Linked DNA regions of Homo sapiens: all the other regions are linked to region 1. The links come from fine-mapping of genetic effects on gene expression. A gene starts in region 1. Each other region holds a variant in brackets. All regions are shown on one strand. Distances are between the middles of the regions. Region 1 holds the start of ANXA6 (annexin A6). Region 2 overlaps ANXA6 (annexin A6). Region 3 overlaps ANXA6 (annexin A6). Region 4 has its middle 16 kb from the start of GPX3.

What was found.
Region 2: its variant is fine-mapped to the expression of ANXA6 in whole blood (INTERVAL, PIP above 0.99).
Region 3: its variant is fine-mapped to the expression of ANXA6 in lung (TOPMed, PIP above 0.99).
Region 4: its variant is fine-mapped to the expression of ANXA6 in lung (TOPMed, PIP above 0.99).

The regions. Positions count from the first base shown.
Region 1 is chr5:151,155,793-151,160,922 of GRCh38, forward strand. ANXA6 (annexin A6) reads right to left here and starts at 1,987. Exons shown (of 26, transcript NM_001155.5): 1 at 1,888-1,987. RefSeq lists an enhancer at 2,148-3,004 and a silencer at 2,800-2,859.
Region 2 is chr5:151,098,498-151,103,652 of GRCh38, forward strand. It overlaps ANXA6 (annexin A6), which reads right to left. Exons shown (of 26, transcript NM_001155.5): 25 at 5,073-5,155; 26 at 2,209-3,010. The coding sequence ends at 2,951. Among named protein-coding and RNA genes, the nearest start is that of TNIP1, 20 kb to the left of the region's middle. RefSeq lists enhancers at 1-18, 209-258. The variant C/A (reference allele first, on the strand shown) is at 2,844.
Region 3 is chr5:151,126,303-151,131,457 of GRCh38, forward strand. ANXA6 (annexin A6) reads right to left here. Exons shown (of 26, transcript NM_001155.5): 11 at 4,929-4,987; 12 at 3,105-3,227; 13 at 1,879-1,937; 14 at 100-178. Among named protein-coding and RNA genes, the nearest start is that of ANXA6, 29 kb to the right of the region's middle. RefSeq lists an enhancer at 1-11. The variant C/T (reference allele first, on the strand shown) is at 2,739.
Region 4 is chr5:151,002,413-151,007,567 of GRCh38, forward strand. No RefSeq gene overlaps it. Among named protein-coding and RNA genes, the nearest start is that of GPX3, 16 kb to the right of the region's middle. The variant A/G (reference allele first, on the strand shown) is at 2,985.

The DNA.
Region 1 (5,130 bases):
GAAGGGGCTAAGCCCCAGAGGGGTAGTAGGTGTGCCCAGGGCGCCTAGCTGATTAGTGGCAGGGCAGGGGCTGGGTCCGAGGCTGGATCCTGGTGGCCCAGGGCTCCCTCTGGATGCTGCAGTGCGGATGTGCCAGTCACTGGCAGCTATCCAGCACTGCAGTCTCCCCCACTTCATCCCAGGAGTCAGTCTCAAGAGGCCAGGCCTTGGGCTTCCCTGGCCCCTCCTCTGCACACTCACATCTACATTTTGCCCCAGCAACAGCTGTGGCCCTTATCCAGAAACTGCAAGTATTTTCTGTATCTCAGCAGATGCTGCCTTAGGAACAAAGGGTAGATAAGGCAAAGAAAGATGGATGAGTGATTGTCACAGCTGCAGAGGGGGATGAAAGCCTCTGCCTCCTGCCCTCCCCAGTCCCATCCAACTCCCAGAATCCTAAATCTTAGAACAGTTGAATCCTAGAATGTCTGCACTGGCAGTGGCAGCCAGTTCAGCAGACTTTGCTCCAGATGGGGCACAAAGCCTTAGAGAAAGGGCTTGCTCAAGAAGTCCCAGCACATCCGGACTGTAACCGGGCTTTCCTCTGACCCCAGGCCAGTGCCCTCGGCGTGGCTCAGGGCCTGCCTGCTAGGAGGTCAGGGTCCACAGGGGCTGAAACTGGGGCGGTCATTCACTTCACCATGAAGGGCTACGCAGGTCAGGATATGCCATCTGGGTCAGTGGAAGCAATCCCAAGCATGTTTTGGGCAAGGGGGAAGGAATAATGGAGGGAAAAGGGCGGACTCTTGGGGGGAAACCAGAGTCCTTTCACAAACCCGGGAGCCATATGTCCAAATTTGGAATTGTCAGAGAAGACCCACTAGAATCTAGGGAAAGGAAGGAGGAGGCAGGAAGCCGTGGCCAGATTAGTTGTCCCAAAGGACCTCCTGCCCTTTCCCCTTGTAGGGCCTACAAGGGTTGTGCCAGGCTTCCCAAATCTATAATCAAGACTCCCAAACCTGCAATCATTCCATACAGCTGACAAATAAATCAGTTTTCAAAGCCATTGTTTCCTTTGAAAGAGACTGGGTTTCTCAACTATGGACTTGGAGAAGGAAATCCAGGCTCAGAGAGGGAAAGCCACCGCCCAAAGTCACACTGCAACAGGGGCTGGGATTCCGATTCAGGGTATTTTGCTCCCATGCTGGTATATGGGGAATTATTTGAAGCCCCCAAACTTTGGGAAGGCCTAGACCGCTTAGGGGATGCAGAAAGAAGGGTAGTGCCCCTGCCTCACCATAGGAGGCCTCGGAGCCCCGTTGGGAGACTGCATTCATAGACAAGCAGTGGCCCAAAGGGGATGGGGTCCAATGAGGCCCTGAGGTATGTACGACCGGACGTTCAGCTCTCTGCACGCAGGCAGCCCTCCCCCGACACCACACACAAGCCATTTTATAAGCAGCTGGAGGGTCCAACGCTCTTGCTCTCAGTCTTGGGCCTCAGCCACACCCTTCTCTGCGGGTCCTTTGACTGGCGTCCAGCTGACCCCAACCCCGGACCTTCAAAGTCTCTTGAGCCCCCCCAAATTAAGGCCGGCAGGACCAGCCCCTGGCTCAGCTCCGGCGCCCAGGACCCTCAACCAGACCCTCTGCAGCAACGGGACTCCCTCCCCTCCCCCTAGCCAGGGCGCCCTCCGCCCGCGCCTCTCCGCCCCGACCCCAGATTTGCTCCGCTGCGCTCCCCAGACACACCCAGTCTGCGACACTCTCGGGTTACCGCGCCCTCCCGTCCCTGCTCCTGGCGGGGGGTACCCATCAGCCGATGACTGGGCGCTTATTTCTTGTGTCCCTGCAGCCCCCGGGAAGGGGTTCCCAGAGCGACTCCCCTCTCCAGCCTCAGCCCACTCACCGCGCAGCGGAGGCCTCGGGTCGCAGACGGACGCACGGGCGCAGGGACTCGAGGACGCAGCGCTCGCTGGATCGGAGCCCGTTAGCCCAGCAGCAACCGCAGCGCGGGGCGGACCGGGAGGACAGCCGTGGGCTCCGAGCCGGACACGTGGCGCGCAGAGGCCAATCCGGCGCGCCCGCCTCCCTCCTCCACCCCACCCCTCTAGCTCCTTAGCTCTTGGAATCTTAGAATGTCACTAGCCCGAGGGGCTTGCCGGGAGAACCTCCTCAGTTTCCAGCCCCCGGATCTGAGACTGAGAAGGATTAGGGGCTTTGGCCAAGGTCACGCGGCCCTTCAGGGCTAGAAGTCAGGGCTCCTGACTCCGGGTTCTGGACACTTTCCCGCAAATTCTTATAAGTCGCCAAAGCTTTGTTGAGAAACAGAAAATTGAGGTTTGCCAGGGGCACTTTATCTGCCTGATCAGATTCCATGCCTCAACAGCCTCATTAGGTCGGTGACATTATTTACCCACTTTCAGGAGGAGAGCCCAGTCCAGTTCCTGGACCAAGGTCACACAAATAGTGGGTTGCGGAGGCAAGCTTCTTCGTGCTCTGGGAAGCAGGGAAGGCAGGCAGGGAGACCAGCAGTTGTAATCCAGCGCTAGAACAGGAAAAATTGATAAACTGAGAATACAGAGGAAACTGAGAATTATTGTCCCCAGGGGATTGGTAAGGAGAAGATGAGGAAGTTAGAAGAATTGGACAGATACCTGCGGAAAGTGTTCCAGGCAGAGGAAACTGCTGGAGCAAATGCTCCTAGCAGGAGGCCACCTGGCGCCTCCGAGGATCAGCAGGGGGGCCAGTGTGGCTGGAATGGAGTGAGTGGGAGGGAGAGGAGAGATAAGAGGGACCCAATCAGGTGGGACCTCCGGGGCCCTTGAAGGCACGCTGTCTTTTACTCTGAGTCAACTGGGGATCCATTGCAGGATATTGAGCAAAGAAAGGGTATTATTTTTGGGTAGATGAAATCCACACAACATAAAATTAACCATTTTAAAGTCAACAATTCAGTGGCATTTTGTACAGACACAATGTTGTGTATCCACCACCTCTATCTAGTTCCAAAATATTCTCTTCACGGAAAAATAAAACAGTATACCCACTGAGCAGTCACTCCTAACTTTCCCTTACCCCTCGTCTCTGGCAACCACCAATTTGCTTTCTGCTTCTGCGGATGTGCCTATTCTGGATATTTCATATACATGGAATCACATGAGATGCAACCCTTCTTGTCTGACTTCTTTCATGTGGCATTTTGTTTGTTTGTTTTTGTTGTTGTTTTTTCACTCTTGTCGCCCAGGCTGGAGTGCAGTGGCGTGATCTCTGCTCACCACAACTTCTGCCTCCTGGGTTCAAGCAATTCTCCTGCCTCAGCCTCCCGAGTAGTTGGGATTACAGGCATGCGCCACCACACCCAGCTAATTCTGTATTTTTAGTAGAGACGGGGTTTTTCCATGTTGGTCAGGTTGGTCTTGAACTCCCGACCTCAGGTGATCCACCTGCCTCGGCCTCCCAAAGTGCTGGGATTACAGGCGTGAGCCACCGTGCCTGGCCTCATGTGGCATGTTTTTGAAGTTCATCCACACTGTAGCATGTATCAGCACTCCATTCCTTTTTTTTTTTAGTTTCAGTTGGAGTTTTGCTCTTGTTGCCAAGGCTGGAGTGCAATGGCGTGATCTCGGCTCACTGCAACCTCCACCTCTCAGATTCAAGGAATTCTCCTGCCTCAGCCTTCCGAGCAGCTGGGATTACAGGCATGCACCACCACGTGTGGCTAATTTATTTTTGTATTTAGTAGAGATGGGGTTTTACCATGTTAGTTAGGCTGGTCTCGAACTCCTGACCTCAGGTGATCCACCCGCCTTTGCCTCCCAAAGTGCTGGGATTACAGGCATGCGCCACCGTGTCCGGTCCAGCACTCCATTCCTTTTAATGGCTGAATAATTTTCCGTTGTATAAGTACACTATAATTTGTTTATCCATCCATCTGTTGATGGATAGTGCATTGTTTCCCCCTTTTGCTGATTGTGAATAGTGCTGCTAATGAACATTTGCATACAAATACTTATTTGAGTACCTGTTTTCAATTGTCGTTGTGTATTTACCTAGGAATGAAACTGCTGGGTCATATAGTAATTCTACATTTAAGTTTTTGAGGAACTGCCAAACATTTTTTCAGAGTGGCTGCAACATTTTATATTCCCATCAGCCATGTCATGTATGAGGCTTTTAATTTCTCCATGTCCTTGCCAACACTTGTATTTTATTTTTTAAAAATTTGTACCCGGCCAGGCACAGTGGCTCATGCCTGTAATGCCAGTACTTTGGGAGGGCCGAGGTGGGTGAATTGCTTGAGCCCACGAGTTTGAGACCAGCCTGGACAACATGACGAAACCGCATCTCTACAAAAAATTAACCAGGGGTAGTGGCACATGCCTGCAATCCCAGCTACTGGAGAGGCTGAGGTGGGATGATCCCTTGAAGCTGGAAGGTAGAGGCTGCAGTGAGCCGTGATTGCACCACTGCACTCCAGCCTGGGCGACAGAGTGAGAACTTGTCTCAAAAAAACAAAAGTACAAAAAACTTGTGCTCTAGTCATTATGAAATGGCATCTATAATTGTGTTTTTGATTTGCATTTCCCTTCTGACTAATGATGTGGAGTATCTTTTTTGTGTGCTCATTGGCCACTATTTGTACATCTTCTTTGGAAAAATATCTAATCATGCTTTTTGCTCATTTTTAAATTGGATTTTTTGTCTTTTTTGTTGTTAAGTTATATGAGTTCTTTTTATATTCTGGATAAGACTTTTGTGTTTGTTTGAGACAGAGGCTCGTTCTGTTGCCCAGGCTGGAGTGCAGTGGTGCCATGTCGGCTCACTGCAACCTTCACCTCGTGGGTTCAAGCAATTCTTTCCGCCTCAGCCTCCCAAATAGCTGGGATTACAGGCACCTGCTACCATGCCCAGTTAATTTTTGTATTTTTTTAGTAGAGACGGGGATTCATCATGTTGGCCAGGTTGGTCTTGAACTCCTGACCTCAGGTGATCCACCTGCCTTGGCCTCCCAAAGTGCTGGGATTACAGGTGTGAGCCACCGCACCTGGCCAAGACATATTTTTTAAAGGGTCACTGAAGTCTCCTGTGTTGGAAATACTGAATACTGTTGGGGGAAGAGTAGAAGAAGGGGATCTGCTAGGAGATTTTG
Region 2 (5,155 bases), 57 kb before region 1:
GCAATCTCCAGTGTCATTTTGGAGAGAGCTGAGCAGGAGGGACACTCAGTGGAAGCTCCTTAAGCACCAGAACCACATTGGTTTGTATGTTTTGCACCTAGCACGTGGCATGGAACATAGGAGCCACTCATTAAGTGTAAACTGCATGCATGCATGAATGGGGTGCTCTGGTTCAGAACAGTGGCTACTCTCCTCCTCTGCTAAAACTCCAAGAAAAAAATGTGGTTTGTTCAGCTGGCACCGAGCTCTTAGTAGGACCGTTGCAAAAGGCTCCCGAATGGCACCCTGCCTTCCTACATTTGTCCTCAGAGCATAGCTAGACGCACACCTTCCCCACTCAAGAACTCCAAAGGCTTCCCCTAGGTTATCAGAGAAAATCCTGACATTTAAAGTCCTCCTTAATTGGAGACAAACTGTCACTTCTCATCTTGTCTACCTCACCTCACAAACTCTTAGGGTTTCCTTCCTGCTACCGACCAGTACCAGAATGCAACTACCTTAACTGAAAATTATGTGGAAAATGCATGCTGAGGCATTAGGGAGGCATCAGACAGCTACTGCCCGATTTTAGCTGTCCTCATTCCTGGTTTCTAGGCCTCCTCTTCTGTGTTCCCCTCAGCTCCATGGGCTCTCCTCACTTCTATTCCCTGATTCCACTCTTCTTTCCTTTCTGCCCCAAGCCCATTTCCCTCAGTATATATTTTAAGGCACTTTTCTTTTTGGGTTCAAATGCCTTTGTGATCTGCAGCTGACGGACTTCATGAAATCAAAGCCATAAAGCATCATGGGCTCCACCTTTCAGCCCCTACAACTGAGCCTGGTTCGGGGCAGGTAGTGAGACTGACTCCGAGCCAGGCACGCACCCTGCCAAGCACCTCCACGTGGTGCCTCCTTTTATTCCCACAAGGCTACAGGATAGGTGGAATTGGAATGAGGAGCCCTGTTTTACAGAGAAGGAAACCGAAGCTCCTGTGCTGACGGTCAGTTAGTTACAAAGGTCTTAATCCAAAACTCTGAACCATTTTGTTAATTTATCTTTCAGTAACAGTTCAATTAAGTTAGACAAATATCCCAAAAAGCTCTTAGCTGGCCCTCAAGGCACTTGAGTTCACAGCCCAGAAGAAAGGAAGTAAAGACACGGTAAGGTAACTTTTCTTTGTTTCAGACTCATTATGTCAGAGATTAAGAGAGAGCTCTTCAAAATTGTTGGATCCAACCCCCCACTATAAAGTTGGAGTAACTGAGGCCCAGTGAGGGCAATGGCTGGTCTGAGGTCACAAGTGAGGGAGGGACGAGACCAGACTCTCTCACCTGCCTGTTGCTGTCTTCACAGCTATGAAAACAAACACATGCGCCGCGCACGGTGGCTCACGCCTGTAATCCCAGCACTTTGGGAGGCCAAGGCGGGTGGATCACCTGAGATCAGGAGTTCGAGACCAGCCTGACCAACATGGAGAAACTCCATCTCTATTAAAAATACAAAATTAGCCAGGTGTGGTAGCACATGTCTGTAATCCCAGCTACTCGGGAAGCTGAGGCAGGAGAATCGCTTGAACCCGGGAGGCAGAGGTGGCAGTGAGCCAAATTCATGCCATTGCACTCCAGCCTGGGCAACAAGAGCGAAAGTCCATCTCAAAAAAAAAAAAAAAGAAGAAAAAGAAAAGAAAGAAAAGAAAACAAACACGCGCTAACCTGCAATAAACTAGTCTGGTCAGCCAGGGTAGGGAGAAGTGCCCTTTGGCCAGCAGCCAGCCCCATGCCATGGTCACTGGACAATCTTAGACCAAAGCCACAGACCAGAAGTAGGGCAGCGGGGGAGGGAAGGCAGAGGAACTGCAGTTGCGCCTACTTGCTTATCAGTGACCTGCATGAAGGAAACTTTCCATGCACCTCTCCAGATCAAGATCACATCGGGCACCCTTGCATAGTTCAAAAGAGGAAGTTTGGGCTTGGTTGAAATGGATGAAGAGCATACAGAAATGTCCAGACAGCGAGAGGGGATGAGGGGGAACCTGAGGCCCGGAGCAGGGCTGGGCCAGCCTTCCCAGGCTTGCTGCAAACTCAGATTCTCCTGTGCGCTTCCCGGGAAACACCTTGCAAGAATTTAAAGACGTAACTCGCTCCTGGACAGACTTTACAACCTCAAGCTCTAATGAGGAAAATCCAGGCTGCAGGCTCTAGGTAGAAGACAGAGGCCCTCACTGGAAATGTGTTTATGTGTTTGTGTATCTCTTTTTATTTCTTCCTTAGAAATAAAAAGTGTCAAGGGAATGAATCGGAGGCATACTTTAGGAAGTTAATGTTAGAAGGGAAGCCAAGATTTTTTTGTCCAACTGTCTCATTGTAGATAAGAAAATAGAGACTCAGGGAGGGAAAGGGGCTGGCCTAAGGTCAGAAACAAGTGCATGGCAGATGCAGATTTGAACCCAGGCATCCAAATTCCTGGTCCAGTACTCTAGCGCGGCCTGGATGGAGATGGGTGGTGAAATGGATGGGAAGATTTGTCAGTTTGCCCCAGCACATTTACTATCCTTCCCACCACCCCGCCCAGCACATTCAACTGGCCCCTGCCACCAACCCCCTCATTCAAAGTACAGACACTACTCATTTTACAGACAGAGGTTCAGGATGTTTTTGGATCTGACATAGCCCAAACCAGGGCAGAGGCTGTAGCAAGGGGAGGAAGCTGGGAAAGCCTGAGGGTCAGAGGGGAGTGGAGGTGGACAGGATCTATGGCTACGGTTTTTCAGCCGCTCAGCCGTGCTGGGCCCTCGATGGCCCGTGGGAGTGGGAGCGTTTCCTAAGCTCCACTGAAGATAAGAGCCCAACCCAACCCCTCCCCC[C/A]ACCCCTGCCCCTTCCTTAGTCTCTGGAGCTGGAACAATCAGGCTTGGCCATGGCGGCTGGTGCTGATAACCATTTCTTGGCAGAAGTGCCCGCCAAAGCTGTGGCCCTAGTCCTCACCACCACAGAGAGCCAGCAAGGCCTTCAGGAAGTCTCCGGAGGTGTCACCCTGGCAGAGGCAGAGAGCAGAGTGAGTGAAAACAGTCCTTCCAGTCTCAATGCCCCCTCCTCCCGGCTGCCCATCTGTCTGGACATCTCCCTCGGCTTCTCTCCATGACCAACATAGGATCCCATGCCACATGTAGGCTACTGGGATCTCCCAGACACATAAATGTGACCACGTCCCTTTTGTTTATCCCCAGGAAGATATGCAAGCTCCCGGCCTGGCTTCAAGGCCCTTTGGGATCTGACCTGTGCAGAGCTCTGCAGCTTCACCTGTTCCTTTCCCCCAGGAGCATCTCAGTCCTCTCTCCACCTGTCACTCCCCTGTCCAACATGCCCCTGTGCACCCCCAATCCCATTTGCCAGCAGGGCCCTCTCCTCTGAGAAGCACTCTGGCCACTCTCTTGCGTCAGGAGGCACAGTGAACTCTGGCCTCCCTTGGTTCCCCTGGCACTCTGCTGATACCCTCCCCCATGGCCCTTGGCATATCGTGTTAGGTGATTTCTTATTTGAACAAACAACATTGAGTGCTAACTGCCAAGCCATTGCTGGGAATGGGTACAAACACCATCACGCTCACCACACATCACAGTGGTCTGGTATACGTTCAGACTGGGGAGGCCAAACTTCCTGACCCATGGTATGGTATGGATCTCCCTTCTGAGGGACTCCTATCATTGTTATGAGACATGGTTTTCGGGATTTTGTTTGTCCTTGTATTTTTTGATGTATGATTTTAAAACATAATATAGTATCAAAATGTGCCAACAATTTACTTACATTCCTACTAAGTCTGTAAGAGACTGCCTCTGAGATGCCCATAGTCTCGTTAGCCAAGTAGAACCAAGCATCAGACTTTAAGATCTTGGCTGATCTCAAAGAGCAAAAATATAAGCTCCATATGTCAAAAAAGTCAGACGCAGCCAGGTGTGGTGGCTCACACCTGTAATCCCAGCACTTTGGGAGGCCAAGGCAGGTGGATCACTTGAGGTCAGGAGCTAGCAACCAGCCTGGCCAACACAGTGAAACCCTGTCTGTACTAAAAATACAAAAATTAGCCAGGCATAGTGATGCATGCCTGCAGTCCCAGCTACTCGGGAGGCTGAGGCAGGAGAATTGCTTAAACCCAGGAGGTGGACGTTGCAGTGAGATGAGATGGCACTGCTGCACTCCAGCCTGGGCGACAGAGCAAGACTCCGTCTCAAAAACAAACAAACAAACAAAAAGTCAGACACAAAGGGTCACATATTAGGTGATTCCATTTATATGAAATATTCAGAAAAGGCAAATCTACAGAGACACAAAGTAGCTTGGTGGTTGCCTATGGCTGGGGATGGAACTAGATAAACAGGTATGAGAGAGCTTAGTGGGATGATAGAAGTGTTTGGAAACCAGCTGCATTATGGGAATGGTTGTACAACTCAGTAAATTTACTAAAAACTGTTGAATTGTACCCTTAAAACAGGTGAATTTTATGATATGTAAGTTTTTCGTTTGTTTGTTTGTCTGTTTTTGAGATGGAGTCTTGCTCTGTTGCCCAGGCTGGAGTGCAGTGGCGTGATCTCAGCTCACTGCAACCTCTACCTCCTGGGTTCAAGCGATTCTCTTGCCTCAGCCTCCTGAGTAGCTGGGATTACAGGCATGAGCCAACACACCCAGCTAATTTTTGTATTTTTAGTAGAGACAGGGTTTCACCATGTTGGCCAGGCTGGTCTTGAACTCCTGACCTCAAGTGATCCACCTGCCTTGGCCTTCCAACGTGCTGTGATTACAGGTGTGAGCCACCATGCCTGCCCATGATATGTAAGTTATACTTCCATAACATTGCTTTAAAAAAAGCAAAAAATGGGCTCTTGTTTTATTTGGAAATCTTTAATTATAAACCTTTGATTCTTTTGGAATTGATTTCGGTATAAACAATGCAATACAGACCCCCTTTCATTTCAATATCCTGGCTGTTCTAAGCGGTAACCCACTGGAAAAAAGTCCATGGGAATAAAGACTTCTAATCTTATATTAGGGATCTGACACTCACCCGCTTCCTGCTAACCTCTAGCCCCTCCCCTTACCTCAATGGCTTGGTGGAGAGACTTGTCATATTTCTCAATGAATTCCCTCCGGATGTTGAGCAGGTCAATCTCACTGCGGGATA
Region 3 (5,155 bases), 29 kb before region 1:
GGCCGCCAGGGGGCAGCTGGGTGCCAACCAGAGCAGCAGGAAGGTGCAAGCAGAGAAGCTGTGGTCAAGAGGTCAAGCAGGAGGAGGGGAAGGTCTGACCTCTACTCGGGCCACTGCACTAAGTTCCCACATCTGATAGGCCACCTGCGCTGCCTCCGGGAAGAACTGGCCAGCAGCACTGGAATGGAGGGGTTTAGGGAGAGGACAGGAAGGAATGTCATCATGGGCAACACTCACACCAACACACACACACACACACACACACACACCCCAACACATACACACACGTGCACACACCACACACACATTAAGCTTTCTTTCTCTCCAGCCTATGCCTCCTCCATTCGCCAGAGTCCTCCCTCCATTTCTGAGAACCTTCCATCTCTTGAGACCCCCTGCAATGCTGCCTTTTTTATTTTTTATTTTTATTTGAGACGGAGTTTTGCTCTTGTCACCCAGGCTGGGGTGCAGTGGCTCGATCTCAGCTCACTGCAACCTCTGCCTCCCAGGTTCAAGCGATTCTCCTGCCTCAGTCTCCCAAGTAGCTAGGATTACAGGCACCCGCCATCACGCCTGGCTAATTCTTGTATTTTTAGTAGAGATGGGGTTTCGCCATGTTGGCCAGGCTGGTCTTGAACTCCTGACCTCAGGTGATCCGCCCGCCTCAGCCTCCCAAAGTGCTGGGATTACAGGCGCTGAGCCACTGTGTCCGGCCAATGCTGGCTTTTAAGGGCAGCCTTCCTGGCTGCAGAGTCCAAGCAGGATAGGATTTTTCCAATCCTTCAGCCTCCCCTTTCTTCCTTAGAATTTGAATGGCTTCTATCCAACTCTCCCCTCTCAAAGAGGCCATTGAGCAAGCTATGGCCATGCCAGCCCTGCATCTCCTCCTGCAAAGTGCCTGGATGCATCAGGAGCTCAGTAATATCTGCTGAACTGCATCAACCCCTATGGTCCTTACCAAAGGTTCACAGGAAATTCTTGCATCCCTTCTGTAATTGGATCTTTATAAGATCCAGAGAAAGGAAATCAGAGCGCAGCCTGTTCCCTTTCTCAAACACAAATCTGGTCAAGTAATGTCCCAATTTAACATTCTGGGAAGAGGCCCCCAGGCCCTCCCACTTCTCTGCCTTATTTCTCTCTCTAGTACTCCATAAATGCATGACTTCGGACATATGAATGAATCAGGCCACTCCTTCTCACTCCTCGGCTTTTCTATAGGTGATTTCCTCCACCCAAACACTGTCCCCAGACCCTCTTCACCTGGCTCTTCCCCTTCCTCCTTGGGTCTCACCGTGTATCTCCAAAGAGTCTCCCCTTGGTCTGGGCTAGGGCATCTCTGTGTGCTTTTATATATGCTTTCTATGTGGCACAGCCAGTTCTCCCCAGCACAGGACTGCTCCCTTCTGGAAACTGGTCTATACCCTTCTGCGCTGTGGCCTTCATCAGGGGCTTCCTCACAGGGTCTGCACCCAGAAGGCACTTAACACAAATATGCTGCATAAATGAGTAGGCAGAGCAGGAATGTGTCCTTTTCCCATTTAACAGGTGATGAAACCGAGAAATGGCTATGAAATAGCAGGGATTGGATGCTCATATTCTGGTTCCTAGTCCACAACCCCAGACTGACTTTCCAAGTTCACAAGAGCAGACATCTCCATATACAGGAGACCACGCTCACGTTCAGACCCCCACACTCTCAGACACACAGACCCACAAGCACAGCAGCTACCAGCAAAAGCCGCCTTTCACTTGTGCGACGCTCCTGGCTCAGGGGAATCCCCAGCTCATCCAATCCACCCATCAGGATGCGAGCCAGGAGAGTCCCCGCCTGGCACCCCAAGGCCATGCCCTCCAGCCAGGGGCCAAGAAGCCACTTACTCATCATCTCCCCCAGACAGCTTCAGCAGAGTCTTCTTGTACTCGCCAGAGGTGTCATTCTGAAGAGAAAGAAAGAAAGGTTACCTCTCACCCAGCCCTGGGCTCCTCTCAGACAAGGAGGTGAAGGTTCTGCACAGCCTGAAAGAGGGGAAGGCTGAATGAACACTTATTCATAGCAGCCCTGGCCCTCCTGTGCTGGTTAATATTGAATAACTGGTTCTCAGCGGGCAGGTTGGAGGAAGCCCTAATTTATAGCATTTGCCTATTTCTGTGGTGTAAATACTTCTAGCAATGGACAATTTCAAGTTACCAATATGACTTTGCTACCAATATGCGGAGTTGAGAAGAGATGCTCGCTGCCCTTTCAAGCCAGTGCCCCAGCACAGCACTGCCACCAGACAGTCCCCAGCCCAGTCCTTCCACATGAAATATGCATGGAAATGGGGTTCCATGAGCAAAAATATTGGGAAATGCAAAAAAATCAAACAAATATATATTACACAGATGCACATATCCGTATAGATGCATATTCCATATCCCTCTTGGGGCTTCATAATGGACTTCAAAATGTGAAAGGCTGTGAGAAGTTCTGAGGTAAAGAAACTGGCTTATTTATCTTTGCTTATTGTGGTTTGTTACAAACTTATTTTCCCATAGAACATTTTGCACATAACACCTAAAAAAATTACCCTTTGGAAACATACTTTGGAGAATACAACTTGGATCTCTTTCTCTGTCACCCCATAAAGTTTTATTTCAGTCATCCAAAAAAAAAAAAAAAAAGGGAAAACCCCTAGCTTTACATATGTCTCCTGATAAAGCCTCAGGGGCCGGATGTCCCAGAGTCATCACCAATCACC[C/T]GGCCCAGGCCAAAGGTTCCCCTTTAACCCTCATTTGTGTTCTTCAGTGTTTCCCAGCCTTCTTCCAGGAGACTGAACTATCACTGCCCTTGGGGCAGAGTCCTCGCACTTAATTCAGCTTGCGTGTCCTTCATGACCCAGCCCCTGCCTCCTTCTGTAGCCTTACCACTCACAAACACCCCTAACACTTGCTTTTCTGTTGAATATCCTTAAATTCCTTGAATGAGCCACAAGGCAGGAGCTCCTGGAATGTCCAAGAGACTCCCACTTCCTAGGACATTTCCTTTTCCTGGGAATAGTCCCCAAGCCCTCTGTCTTGGCAAAAAGCTCTTTGCTCCCTTCTCTGCCCCCATGAGCTCTGCTGACCTTGATCATGCTGTAGAGGGACTTCTCATACTTGGTCCGGAAGATCTCCCGAATGTCGAGCATGTCCAACTCACTACGGGAGACCATGATGCGGATCAGGGTGTTGTCCCGAGTCCCCAGGCCCTGCAAGACAAGTGGGTTTGGGGAACATGGACTTGAGAGGAGGCTAGAGTGCTGATAGCTCCCAGCTTAGTTGAAAATCCTATTTTCATAATAAAAAGTTAAAATTTAGAGCAAAAGAAGCAGACATTGCCATTCCCATTGAAGCTCTCTCTATGCTCCTCTTACTGTTTTGTTTGTTTGTTTGTTTGTTTGTTTGTTTCTGAGACAGTGTCTCACTCTTGTCCAGGCTGGAGTGCAGTGGTACGATCTCAGCTCACTACAACCTCTGCCTTCCAGACTCAAGCAATTCTCCTGCCTCAGCTTCCTGAGCAGCTGGGAGTACAGGTACCCACCACTACGCCTGGCTAATTTTTGTATTTTTAGTAGAGATGGGGTTTTGCCATGTTGGCCAGGCTGGTCTTGAACTGGCCTCAAGGGCTGCCTTGGCCTCCCAAAATGCTACGATTACACACATGAGCCACCATGCCCGGCCCTCTCACTGTTATAAACCTCTTCTCTCTTCATGTATAATTTCCACACTTGATTTTCCTTATAATTTTACCATAGCTTTGTAACTCTAAGCAATACACTTAGATTTACACATTTTGGAACTCTGCAAATATACCACTGTGCATTTAGGTTTTTGCTGTACTATTCCTGATGGTCACTGGGTTGTTTCTAGCTTTTTCCTAATATAAGCAATACTGTTATAAGTTTTTTTTTTCTTTTTCTTTTTTTTTTGAAGAGGCAGGGTCTCACTCTGTTGTCCAGGCTAGAGTACAGTGGCGTGATCACATAGCACTGCGTTCACTGAAGCCTCAAACCCAGGGGCCCTGTGCTCAAGAAATCCTCCTGCCTCAGCCTCCCGAGTAGTTAGGACTACAGGTATGTGCCACAGTCCCTGGCTAGTTCTATTTGTTATTTTTGTAGAGACAAGGGTCTTACTATGTTGCCCAGGCTGGTCTTGAACTTTGGGCCTCAAGTGATCCTCCCACTTTGGCCTCCCAGAGTGCTGGGATCATAGGTGTGAGCCACTGCATGCACTCAGCCTTGTGATGGGCATTCTTAATGAATTCATGCATACAGGCAAACATCTCTCTAGGGCTGAGCTGCCCAACCTCATTATGGCACACTGGTGGGCAGAGAATGGCCGACAGTCTACTTTGTCCTTTCGGAATGGCCAACCAGGGCCAGAAAGGCCCAAGCTCCTGTGTCTCGGGCCTCAGGCCTCTGGCAGCAAATAACTGCATTCATTTCCTCCAGTGCATCACAAAAATACCAGTTTCTTTGTGCGTCATATGTGTAAAAGCCTGGGAAGCTTTCTCAGAAACACACCCAGAGTGGAACTGTCACAGGGTGAGCATCATGAGTCTTAGCAGGCAAGGCCAAAGTGGTCTTGCCTACATACGCTGTATAAAAACATTCTGGTTAATACTTCTTCAAAGTCCGAGCCGCCAACCCATTTGGCTGGAGGGATCAGGTGCAGGCTGCCACCCTAAGTTCATCTGTTGACTCATGACGTCAGGCAGGTATGCAGGTGGCAGGACATGTGACCAGCAGCATTCCTGGCTCTACAGCTCACCTGCGACAGAGCACCTTCACCAGGGTCAGTCCTGTGGCCATCCCTGAAGGGCTCTCTTTGGCCACTGGATCCCAAGGACTTGTCAAAGACTCCCAATAGTCCTCTCCCCAAACCCCATTCACATCAGCCCCACCACGCACCTTCATAGCCTTGAAGAGCCTTTCAGCAAAATATTCCGGGGTGCTCCGGATACACTTCACTGTGAAGAGGGAGGAAGAGGTAGAGTTATTCTGGCTGCCTCAGAAGGGGGATGGGATGGCCTGACTCCCTCTTTGTTTCTATTCCTTGAGGGCCACCTAGCTCAATACAGGAAGAACCACCGTTCCTGATAGCTCACAGCCCCAGATCACCCCAGACCAACCCACTT
Region 4 (5,155 bases), 150 kb before region 1:
GGGAAGCAGGCAACCATGGGAAGACAGGCTAAGATTTAGGATAAAGAAAAAGAGGCTGGGTGCAGTGGCTCATGCCTGTAATCCCAGCGCTTTGGGAGGGTGAGGCAGGAGGACAGCTCAAGCCTAGGAGTTTGAGGTTACACAAAGCTATAATCACACTACTGCACTCCAGCCTGGGTGACAGAGCAAAACCCTCTCTCTCAAAAAAAAAAAAAAAAAAAAAAAACGATTTAGAAAGTTATCTCACATACATAAGCTTACCCCAACCTTGTGAGCAGGTAGTAGCATTAGTATTAGCCTCATTTTTTGGAGGCAAAGCTGATGATTTCATTATCAGGCGCTCTTCTGTATTTCCAAATAAATTGACAGCAGTACAACATTCTGCCTACATTCAGTTCAAGTCCAGGTGCTGTGCTGGGGACACTATGAGGCATGCAGAAATAAAGAAGACAATCCCTGCCCCTCAGGGGGTCATTATCAGGTGTGAGGACAGACACACCTAAATAACCAAGTGCCCACTGTAACAGACAGGAGAGCCCAGGAAGGTAGGAAATTCACTTCGATAGTGAGGCTGGGCACAGTTTTATGGAAGGGGTATGCTGACAATAAGAGGTAAGGTGTATTTAGCCTTTACTCTGTGCATGGCACTGTGCTAAGTGCTTTACCTGCATAATCTCATTAAAACTTCCCCACAGGCCAGGCACCGTGGTTTATGCCTGTAATCCCAGCACTTTGGGAGGCCAAAACAAGAGGATTGCTTAAGCCCAGGAGTTTGCAACCAGCCTGGGCAACATAGCAGGGCCCTGTCTCTTAAAAACAAACCAACCAACCAACAAACAAACCAACAAACAAATCCCCATAGACCTGGAAGGTATCCTACCCTTTTTTACAGAGAAGAAAACTGATGGTCAGAGAGGTTAAGAAACCAGCTACCGTGGCACAACACTGGAACGCGCGTCCTTAATGTGAATTCAGGAGGCCCTACAAGGGTTGGTAGACTTTCAACAGGCAGGGCTGGGAGAGAGACTTCTAAGAGAGGAAACACAGAAACGAAGCCTTAGAGGCAAGAAATACAGGCACGTCTGGGAATGGCAAGGGGATCAGCGTGCCTGGGGTGTGAAAAAGGAGGAATCTGAAGAGATCAAAACTAGAGAAAGAAAACTGAGTCAGAGTGGTGAAGACTGTGAGTAGCAAGGCAAGGAGATCCCGCTGTATTTTGTATTCAGGTGAAACCAACTGAAGATAATGACATCATGTGTGCTTTATGAGGATTAATTTGGTGCATTGCCTAAGAGAACAAGGAGACTAGTTAGGGGCTTGTTAAAATAGTCCTGGCCAAAGATAACTAGCGAAGGAATGAGAACCAGAAGACATTACAGAGATAAAATCCACAAGATCTTATTAGATGCTGGGGAAAGAGGAAAGAATTGTGATTAAGATTTTCATGTTTGGGCAACCAGGAGAATGTGAGTGTGTACACCAGGAGAGGGGCTGGACAGAAGGGAGAGGCGAGTTCACTTTTCTTTTATGAGCTGGAAGGACCACAGGGACCTTTGAGTGGAGATGTTTAGAGGAGAGTTAGAAACAGGAAGCTGGTGATTTAGACATAGTACCTGAGAATCAGAAGAAACCCAGGGCCGGGTGTGGTGTCTCACGCCTGTAATCCTAGCACTTTGGGAGGCCAAGATGGGAGGGCTGCTTGAGGCCAGGAGTTCAAGACCAGCCTGGTCAACATAGTAAGACCCTCTCTATATAGAATAAAATAAAATTTAAAAAAAGAAGAAGGCTGGGTGCAGTGGCTCACACCTGTAATCCCAGCACTTTAGGAGGCCGAGGCGGTGGATCACCTGAGGTCAGGAGTTCAAGACCAGCCTGATCAACGTGGTGAAACCCCGTCTCTACTAAAAATACAAAAATTAGCTGGGTGTAGTGGCAGGTGTCTGTAATCCCACCTACTCAGGAGGCTGAGGCAGGAGAATCACTTGAACCCAAGAGACAGTGAGCCAAGATTGCGCCATTGCATTCCAACCTGGGTGACAGAACGAGACTCTGTCTCAAAAAAATAAAAAATAAATAAAAAGAAGAAGAAATGACCAAGGGAGCTGGCCAGGGAAAAACCTACACTTAAGATTCAGCAAGGCATGTTAGACCCTGATAACCTGCAATTCCACAGCCAGGTTTCTATCCCAGAGAAACAAAATCACACGTGCACAAGAGAGCGTATGAAAGTTCACAGCAGCATTGTCTGTCTTGGTGAAAGCCTGGGTCAGGGAGGAGCAGGCAAATAAACCATTAAACATCCACATTGTGCAATAGTTACCAATTAAGTAGATCAAAGGTATTGACATGGACAGATCTTCAGAACATACAGTGGATGAGAAAAACAACATGTAGTGCAATAATAATGTATAAAACATTACTTATGAAAAAAGAAGAAAAGCCAAACAATCCTGTCACATATATATTTTAAATGATGTATGTGTAGGCATAGAGAAAATTCTGGAAAGCTAAATCCATGCTAATTGTGATAAAGGGGAGGAGTTGGGACAAACATGAAGAGCAGAAGGGGTTAAATGGGGTTTTAGCATAGTTGTCAGGTTTTAATTTTATAAGAAAAATGTAATCATCTGTTACTTATGTGAATAAAAATTCTCAAAATATTTTTAAAAAGAAAGATTCAATGGGAAGAGGAAGCAATGGAATAGACAGGAATACATTCCTAGACTCTAGGTAGGACACTGTTACTGGGAACACTGGGAGAAGTTTCTGGAATGCAAGGTGGAAAAAGGATCCACTGCACTCAGCAACGCTGCAGAGACAGCAGCCAGCAGGATGAGTCCTGTGAGCTCAGCTGGTTGTCAACACCTTTCACTTACAGCCACTAGCTCCTGTGTCCTTGAAAAGTCGCCATGTCCCACCACTGCCCTTGAATGAGATGGAGACTTTCTGTTCTTTTTTGAGTTGTAAACATCCAAAAGCATTTC[A/G]TCAATTTCTTGTATTTAGACATTCCCTTCCTTTCCCAGAAATTCCACAGTGATATTCTCAGTGTTCTCTTTCCAGTCCTTCAAGCTGTGTATGAAATCTACTTCTTCCCAGTCCAGCTCCAGCAAATACCTGCCTCCTCTCTTGTTCTCCATTCAAAAAACTTCCAATTTGAGGTCATTTTTAAGAGCATTACTGTGGTGGTGGCGGTGGTGGAGTTTATAGAATTTCTCATGGGACCCACAGCATGGATGTGGCTAACACTGACTGAGCACACAAAGGTGCAGGCACTGTGCTAACTTCATAGGAAGTATCTCGGTTAATCCTTTCAGCAACCCCAGTAGGTCAGTACTATTATAACCTCCAAGGTCTTTCTTTCACAGCTGGGACTTAGTGTGGCTGAGCGACCTAAGGAGGTAAGTGGCAGTAAGCTTGTGGTGGGTGACTCTGTGTTTGTCTCACTATGTGAGTTTGTCCTAAGTGATCAATAGGGGTGGGGACTGGACTAGAAACAAGGTCTCAGGTATGCAGGGGTGTTCAGTTTACCAAATGCCTTTATGACCATTAATTCATTTGATGTCACCACAGTGCTTTAATGACATGGGTCATTAGGGAAAATAATGAGATGAGTCAAGCTTTGTAATTCCCTTAAAGTGGTCAAGTCTGGGTTAAGGGCTTTTAGGGCACATTAACTCACTATGTCGTCTTGAGCAACTCTGCAAGGGGTGGGAGCAGAGGGGGCCCCCTTTGGCCCAGCTCTCTACAAATCATCTAGTTCCTAGCAGCCACTCCTCCTGGTCTGCAAATTCTTGGCGAGGCACCCTCCTGCTCTCCAAACCCACCCATTCCAGGCGATCCCTTAAGTGGCAGAGGAGCCAGGTTCCTGGGGTTAATAAGCAGGCTGTTTATAGCCAGCAGCAGTCACGGGACAGCCAGCTGGAAGGTCATGCCCCTTCTGAATGTTGAGGTTTCTCATAAACATTTCCCCAGTGAGCCTTCTGGGAGATGAGGATGACTCTGGGCCCATTGCCCTTGCTGGGGCAGAGCGCCAAGGCCCCATACTCACTTTCTTCTCCTTTCTCCCGAATCTGGCTCTCTTCCTCTTTCCTCCTTCCTCTCCTACTCTGCTGTCATTCCTTCCCTTTCTTCAGTGGAAAGAGGACACGTTTCACAGTAGACACACAGGATAACTCAACCTTCTGAGCCTCAGTTTCCTCCTGCGTAAATGGGGTAATAATGGGACCTTCATCTCAGGATGTAAGGGAAAGTGCTTAGCACTGTGTTAGGCACGCACAGTGGACATTTAAAACATATTGGTCATGTCTTTCCCCCTCCACCCTATCCTTTTGCCCTAATCCTGGCCACTGCCCTGTTTTCTTTCTATTTTCCTGCTCCAGCCCTGCTCCCATTTCCACCCTGGGCACTTCCACCCCACTGATTGTGCTGCTGCTGCCTGGGAGGGTAGACGAAGAAGCCAGGCTTCATTCAGAGGAGGGCTGACCACCGCAGGGCCCGCCTGGCCTTGGCACTTCCCCATGAGACCGCACCCTAGGCCTCTCTGCTTTTAGTAAATAGCCCATGGGAACAGGGGGTGGAGGGAGGATGTAGAATGGGAGAGGCCAAGACATTTTAACCTTTGGCTTCTATTTGCCCTTAATCTGGCTCTTCCAATGGCTTAATGATCAGAGATCATTGTGTAAATTGCTGTGTGACTTTGGGCAAGTCCCCTTCACTCTCTGAGCTTCAGTGAAGTGTGGGAAGGAAGTGAAGAGCAGAAGTTGGGTAGAAGTGCAGGTCCTGGAACCAGACCATCTCCACCACTTGCTAGCTTGGAGTACATAACTCCTCTGTGCCTCAGTTTCCTCAACTATAAAATGCAATTTATAGTATACCTAATTTATAAAAGCACTTTTAAAAGTGCTTAGAATAGCGCCTAGCCCATAGTTGGTACTAAATTAATCTCAGCTATTATATGCAAATGGAGAGGTAGAACAGGGGTATGTGTGCATGAGAGGAGAGCTGGACCTTCTCTGAGGGTATTCTAAAGTCCTGAAAACCCACATTCCTCCTTTTTGGATAAGAAGAAGACAGAACCTTGAACACAAAGTACTTCTCCCAAGGAGACCATAGGAAACTTGTCAAAGACTTTTAAAGCCAGATGGACCCCTTAGAG